Linked DNA regions of Homo sapiens. The protein of the gene in region 2 purifies or fractionates together with the protein of the main gene of each other region. This does not show direct contact. Each region holds a gene or a part of one and is shown on either strand. Other genes may lie near its edges.

What was found.
Region 1: the proteins of HELT (region 2) and SORT1 purify together in Homo sapiens (affinity purification with mass spectrometry; one large-scale study listed by BioGRID and IntAct). This does not show direct contact.

Annotation. Positions count from the first base shown.
Region 1 is NC_000001.11:109,328,186-109,331,997, forward strand, and holds part of SORT1 (sortilin isoform 1 preproprotein), read right to left. Parts: intron 1-3,812.
Region 2 is NC_000004.12:185,016,927-185,020,838, reverse strand, and holds the start of HELT (hairy and enhancer of split-related protein HELT), read right to left. Parts: upstream 2,350-3,912; 5' UTR 1,911-2,349; coding exon 1,884-1,910; coding exon of another isoform or gene 1,752-1,883; intron 1,489-1,751; coding exon of another isoform or gene 1,453-1,488; coding exon 1,348-1,452; intron 1,093-1,347; coding exon 996-1,092; intron 567-995; coding exon 67-566; 3' UTR 1-66. UniProt on the Homo sapiens protein: Transcriptional repressor which binds preferentially to the canonical E box sequence 5'-CACGCG-3'.

The DNA.
Region 1 (3,812 bases), on a different chromosome or scaffold from region 2:
TGTTGCTATGTACATGGTTGTACAAATATCTTTTTGAGAACCTGCTTTCAACTCTTTTGGATGTATAATCCAGAAGTGGAATTGCTGGATATGATAATCCTATTTTTAATTTTTTTTAGGAACTACTATGCTGTTTTCTGTAGCAGCTGCACCATTTTACATTTTCACCAAAAGTGCACCAGGGCTCCAATTTCTCCATATCCTTGCCAACACTTTTTAAAATAGTAGCCACCCTAATCTGTGTGAGGAGATACCTCATTGTGGTTTTGACTTGCATTTTCCTAATGATTAGTGATGCTGAGCCTCTTTTTATATGCTTGTTAGTCACTTCTATATTGTGTTTGGAGAAATGTCTATACAAGTTCTTTGCCTATTTTTTATTCAGGCTATTTGTTTGTTGTTGAGTTGTAGCTCAGTGGCATACTCTTGATTCTGAAATGTACTACAATATCTGGAAGCAAATATTTCCTCATGGGTAACCTGTCTCCGTTTATTTTATTTTTGCATTACATCAAAGCCTCTGAACAATGTTTAAAGGCTGACTCTACACAAATAAACTTGATAAGCACCTGATATACTTCAGACACCGTACAAGATGTGATGGTGGTTCGAAATAAGATCCAGTCTTGTCTTTAAGAAACTTAAAGGCTCCAGGTCCACTCTCACAGACCCAGCCAAGTGGACCCCTGCATCAGGCCAGCCCCTGCAGGCTCAGGGTAGGGCCCACCCCTGCACCAGGCTGGCTCCTGCAGATCTACTTACCGGGCTCCAGGTGTTTCACCTGAAGACCCACTTAAAAGGTCCACCCTAGTGGATTCCACTGCCAGGCCTGCCGCAGAGGACCCAGCCTCCAAGCTACCCCCAAAGACCAAGGCACCAGGCCCACCTACCTGCAGAACCTGTCAGTTGCCCCCCCAAGAATCTCTGGATGAGCTACCTGGTAAGGGCTTCCCCTGCTGAAGCCATCTGTAAAGGCCTATGTGTGTAAGAGGACACATAGGCTAAAAGTAGAGATAAAAAAAAGATATTCCACTCAAATGGTAGCCAAAAGAGAGCAGGGGTGGCTATATTTATTTATTTATTTTTGAGACGGAGTGTCGCTCTGCCACCCAGGCTGGAGTGCGGTGGTGCCATCTCAGCTCACTGCAAGCTCTGCCTCCTGGGTTCATGCCATTCTCCTGCCTCAGCCTCCCAAGTAGCTGGGACTACAGGCGCCTGCCACCACACCCGGCTAATTTTTTGTATTTTTAGTAGAGACAGGGTTTCACCATGTTAGTGAGGACGGTCTTGATTTCCTGACCTCGTGATCCGCCCGCCTTGGTCTCCCAAAGAGCTGGGATTACAGGCGTGAGCCACCATGTCCAGCCGGGGGTGGCTATATTTATATCAGACAAAATAGACTTTAAGTAAAAAACTATCACAAGGGATAAAGAAAGTTACCACACAATGATAAAGGTGTCAATTCATCAAGAGCATATAACATTGGTAAATATAAATGCACTCAACATTAGAGCACCTAAATGTATAAAGCAAACATTAACAGAACTGAAGAAAGAGGTAGACGACAATACAATAATAGTAAGGGACTTCAATACTTACTTTCAATGATAGATCATCCAGACAGAAAACCAGTAAGGAAAGAGCAAACTTGAACAACACCATACAAATGGACCTAACAGACATATACAGAACATTCTATCCAATAGCAGCAGAATATACATTCTTTTCAAGTGCACAGAGAATATTCTCCAGGATAGTGCATATGTTAGGCCACAAAACAAGCCTTAACAAATGTAAGACTGAAATCACCTCAAGTATCCTTTCTTTTTTTTTTGAGACGGAGTCTCACTCTGTCACCTGGGCTGGAGTGCAGTGGCGTGATCTTGGCTCACTGCAAGCTCCGCCTCCCGGGTTCAAACAATTCTCTGCCTCAGCCTCCTGAGTAGCTGGGATTAAAGGCACCCGCTGCCACGCCCAGCTATTTTTTTTTTGTATTTTTAGTAGAGACCAAGTCGGCCAGGCTGGTCTTGAACTCCTGACCTCGTGATCCACCCACCTCAGCCTCCCAAAGTGCAAGGATTATAGGCGTGAGCCAGTGTGCCTGGCCTCAAGTTCTTTTCAACTACAACATTATGAAACTAGAATCAGTAAAGGGAGGAAAATTGGAAAATTCACATGAATGTGGAAATTGAACAACATATTCTTGAACAACCAATGAGTCAAAGGGAAATAAAAAAAACTTGAGACAAATGAAAAGGGAAACACAACATATTAAAACTTAAGGGATGCAGCAAAAGCAGTTCTAAGAAGAAAGTTTATGGTGATAAATGTCTACATTAAGAAAAAAGAAAAATCTCAAAAATCTTAACTTTATACCTCAAGGAACTAGAAAAAGAACAAACTAAGCCCAAAGTTAGCAGAAGGGAGGAAATAATAACAGAGCAGAAATAACTGAAATAGAAGTTAGAAAAATAACAGGAAAGATCAATGAAACTTAGAGTTGTTTTTTTTGACAAGATAAAAAAGTGACAAACTTTTAATTAGAATAAGAAAAAAAGAAAAGACTCAAGTAAAATCAGAAATGTAAGAGGAGACATTATAACTTATACTACAGAAAAAACAAAGGATCCTAAGAGACTACTATGAACAACTATACATCAACAAATTGGATAATCTAGAAAAAAATGGATGAATTTCTAGACATATACAGCTTACCAAGACTGTATCATGAAGAAGAAATAGAAAATCTGAACATACTAATATGAGTAAGGAGGCTCAATCAGTAATCAAAAACCTCCCAACAAGAAAAGCCTAGGACCTGATGGATTCAATGGTGAATTCTAGCAAACTTTCTTCAAAGAAGAATTAAGACCGATCCTTCTCAAACTCTTCCAAAAATTGAAGAGAATGGAACACTTCCAAACTCATTTTATAAGGGTGGTATTACCCTGCTACCAAAACCAGACAAGGACACTAGAAGAAAACAAAATTACAGGTCAATATCTCTGATGAACATAGATGCAAAAATTCTCAACAAAATACTAACAAACTGAATTCAACAGCATATTAAACAGATTATATACCATGATCAAGTAGGATCTATCTGTGGAATGCAAGGATGGTTCAACATATGCAAATCAATAAATGAGATATGCCACATTAATAGAATGAAGGATAGAAATCATATCATCTTGATAAATCCAGAAAAAGCACTTAACAAATTTCAACACCCATTCATGATAAAAACTCTCAATAAATTAGGTATAAAAGGGATATACCTCAACATAATAAACCCATTCATGATAAAAACTCTCAATAAATTAGGTATAAAAGGGATATACCTCAACATAATAAAGGCTATATGTGACAAGCCCACAGCTAACATCATACTCAAACAGTCAAAAGCTAAACCTTTTCCTCTAAGATCAGGAATAAGACAAAGATGCCCATTCTCACCACTTCTGTTCATTATAGTAATGGAAGTCCTAGCTGGAGCAATTAAGTAAGAAAAAGAAATAAAAACAAAAAGCATCCAAACCAGAAAGAAAGAGGTAAAATTGTCTGTCTGCAGGTGACATGAGCTTATATATAAAAATCCTTAATCTTTAAAGACTCCACCAAAAATGTTAAAACTAATAAATTCAAAAAAGTTGCAGAATATAAAATCAACATATAAAAATACAATATACACTAACAACAAACTATCCAAAAAAGAAATCAAGAAAATTTCATCTACAATAGTACAAGAAAAAAACTTAAAAAAAAAAAACAAAAAAAACTTAGGGATAAATTTAACCAAGGAGGTGAAAGAC
Region 2 (3,912 bases):
ACAATATATACAGCATTTCTCCTAAAAGCGCCCAAAGCGAGGAGAAATCTGGCGGGCGAGTGGGCGTCAGAGCACCGGGGGGTGCTGGGGCGTGTGCAGGTTAAGGGCGTTGGGGTGCGCGTGGCCGATCAGGTTGAGGTAATGCCGGTCCAGGCCCTGCACCGGTGTCAGGAAGGGGCTGTGCTGCTGCGCTGGGCTAGCGAGCGGCACTGGCGCGCTGGGCAGGTAGGGCAGCGCGGGGCTGCGGGCCGCGCCAGGCGGCCAGGGGAAAGGCCCGGCACCAGAGCCCTGCGGGAACACAGCGGCCTCGCCCGGGCTGTGACCAGCGAATTCGGGCCCCGCAGGGTGCAGCTGATAGGAGAAATCCGGCTCCGGGAGCGAACCCAGCGGCGGAAAGGCGGGCTCCGCGCCCAGGCGGGCCTTGGACTGCAAGAAGGCGAGGATGCGCGCGTACTTCGTGTCCTTGGTCTCCATCCGCTCCACCGTGGTGAGGTAATGCACCAGGTTCTTCATGCACTCGTGGTAGCCATAGTGGAAGTAGTTGGCAAACTCCGCTAGAAGTTCTGCTGGAGGAACGAGAAAGCCCGTAGGACGGACACACCCTGAGTGCCCCTTCCCCACGCGAGCCCAAAGCGGGTGCAGGGCACCTCCCACCACATTTTCTGGCCAAAGTTCCCATTTGAGGCCCGCCCTCTCCTCTGCGCAGTCTTAGAGACTGGCGAGGCACGCGCAAACGCCCTCTTTCCCTGAGAGCCTGACCCCACCCACCCCACCCGGGAGAAGGAGGTGGAACCAGCCTCCCTGGGAACCAGTTCTCCCTCGCCGCCTTGCTGTCGCCGAGCAGGGAGAGGCGCCTTCGCAGGACCCCTGCCCTCCTGGAGAGTGGAGCTCTAGTAGAGCTCTCGGGAACACTCAGTCACTCCCCTCCCAGCCCCAGGGTCTCTGGGTGGCGCAGGCGCCTGGCCCAGGCGTCCCATTCCCTAACCTGTGCCCACCTTTTTCCCTTCCCCGGGGAAAATCAGCGGAGTGCAGTGCTCTCAGGTACTGAACGGTCATCTCGAGGATCTCCGCCTTCTCCAGCTTCCCGGAACTCTGCAAAAGGAGGAAGGGCCCCTCGCAGCGGCCCAGCGCCTGCTGGTCGGGCACTGTGGCGCTGGAGAGGACCAGCGAGCGGACGCGGCTGCGGATCTGCGCCAGAGCCTCCTGAGGTTCGCCCTGCGCTCAGGCCCCCCGCCTGGGAGGGGCCCGCAAGTGAGGTCCTCTGTGTCCGCGGGCTCGGGCGTCTCCGCAGAGTGGCCGCAGAGGCCTCCCAACGCCTGGCACCCGGCTCCGGGTCGCCAACGTTACCTGCTTCGCCAAGGCCATGGGCACTGTCTTGCCCAGCTCGTTCAAGCAGCGGTTGATCCTGTCCCTCCTCCGCTTTTCTATCACTTTATGAGAAACGGGGGTTCTCTGCGAAGAGAGGGTTGTATGTTTAGGATGGCTTTGCCCGGGAAGTCGTCAAAGGCGCGGCTCTAGCAGCTGGGTGCAAGCCGCCTCTCCAGCCGCGCACACTGCTCAGATTCGCTCTAGGAAGGGACTCCTGGCCCGCCACGCTCGGGCCAGGTGAGCTCTGCCTTCTGACGCCCGCGCTGGCGCGCTCCCCTTCCAGCCACCCTACCCAGGCCTTTGGGGAGGTGGCCGCCAGCCTCCAGGCAGGACTTCTACCTGGTTGAGCACCCTCCTCTCTCTACCCCACCCCCTTCCCAAACCACTCGAGATTCCTCCACACTCAAAGTCCCGTGCGGGCACTTCCCTGCCATCGGTCCACCCAAGTGGCGGGTCGGTGAGTCAGATGCCTCCACCACCAGGGCGCAAGTGCCATTTGGGCTCAGCCGACTCACTTTGCGTTCCTTGAGCTTGTCTGACATCCTGGTCAGTACGCGCCCTCGGGAGAGGCGGTGGCGCGGGGCACCCGTCCACTTTTCCGCCTCGTGTGCCTCCTCGAGTGTCCCAGGTAGACTGCAGCCTCCCAACTCCGAGGGCTGCCTTATAAAGCGGTCATCTAGGGCTCCAGATGCATTCACGAGTTGAATTATTCCATAGGATTAGGGGAGCTGCGTTTGGAGGATGTATGCATTCAAGATCAGTTTTAAAGAAGTTAAGAAAAAAAAAAAATTAGCAGCCGAGGGGGGCGAGCTGGGGGCAGATCAGCTTTGTTAATCCACGTGGCCCTTCAAAGGACACGTGATCGGCCCAGGAATAACATTTGCATGGCAACAGCTCGGGCGGGAAAAGGAGGCGGTAAACTGGGGCCGGCGGGCGAGCAAGCGCCTGCAGCAGTCGCGGGCGCGGAGCGCAGGGGCGCAGCGGCCGCGGGCACCGGGGGGCGAGGACCCTCACAAAACAGTGTCGCCTCTTTTAGTCCCACCGCTGAGTCTCACATGATCGCCTGTTTACAAATCCCAGCAAGCCCGCCGTCCCAGCGCCGAGTGCGTTTTAAAGCCTGTCCAGAGTCATTAAAGTAATTAAGTAAGCCTTTAATAGGCTGTTCCGCCGGGTTCAAGGGAGAGCTCTTGGAGACGGAGGCGCCCCGTTTGTTCCCAGGCTTTTCTCACACGACTTGGTGACACGTCCTTCTCCCCCCTTTTTGTTTACACCGCTTTATTTGTCCGGACATCCCGGCAGGTGTGGGGCTGCGGCTGGCACACGAGGCTCCCGCCTCGCCTCGCCTCGCCCCTCCCGCCGCTGTTTGGCACGCGACGCTCCCCCCTACTCCCTGACCACGTCGCTGGCTTTCTTTTCTCCCCACCCCTCCTGCTCCCTCTTCGCGGGGGGAAGAGGCTCAATTTGTAGCCTATTATCCTATACGAAAATGTCCATTGAAAAGTATGAATAGTTTCATTGGGCTAAATTTTAATAATGCCAGAGGGTGGGGGAGGAGAGACTGGCGGGCGTGTGTGTGTGTTTGTGTGTGAAGGGGCGGGTGGGAGGATTGGGGGGCAACACGGAGAAGAGTGGGCCGAGAAGAAAAGGGGGAATGCAGCTGGCCCAGGCAAGCATTATGCAACGTCACCTGCGAGAGGGGGCGCCTACAGACCCCTATTCATTTGCCTAATTTTGGTCAATTTAACAAACTTCAGGAGAAATTATTGTGGCTTTGTCAGGGAGGGTGAAGCCTTCTGATCGAATTAACAGCATGTTTTGATCCGGTAAATGTCATTAGAAAGGGAGAAACAATCGCGCTTAGAGGGCTCTGAGTAATGCGCCCAAGTGGAGACGCCAAAGCGCACGGCTCACAAAGGGAGCAAGTAGCTGCCACAGGGAACTTTTGTACCCGCCCATCGCCCAAGTTTTGACACAAAAAGGCATTATTTCATACTTGAATACGTTTAATCCAACGATTGTCTATTTTCTGCAAACATATTTTCACAGCATTGTTAACTTTTTATGTCTCCCTTTCGCTGGCGTCTTTTCTTAACGTTTGGGGGCGGGAGAGCGCAGACACTTTGGGCATCAATATTTGTCACTGAAAAGGGCCCTGTGAAGTTTGGGAAGTTGATCTCTTTTTTATGGTTTTAGAAAGCGAAAATATCGGGGGGAGGAGGAGGGAGGGAAGGCACGAACAGAAACGAGGGAGGAAATTTGCTGGACGGGCCCAAGGGGAAGGAGGGGGGCGGCGGCGGCTGGGAACTCTCTTGGCCGCCTGCGCCTCTGAGGGCAACCTGGCCCCGCGGCCAGAGGCCACCTCCCCCAGGACGGGCCTCGCTCACACTTGCTGCCTCGGATCCTATACTCTGGGGGCTCTGAGCTTGTGGGGTGTGGGTGGGGGGTGAGCTTTCTTGCAGATTGAAACGATAAAAATGATTTTTGTTTTATGGCCCTTTCTAGAGCCACCGAACTCTCACCTCTCTAATCTTTTCCATCTGGGAA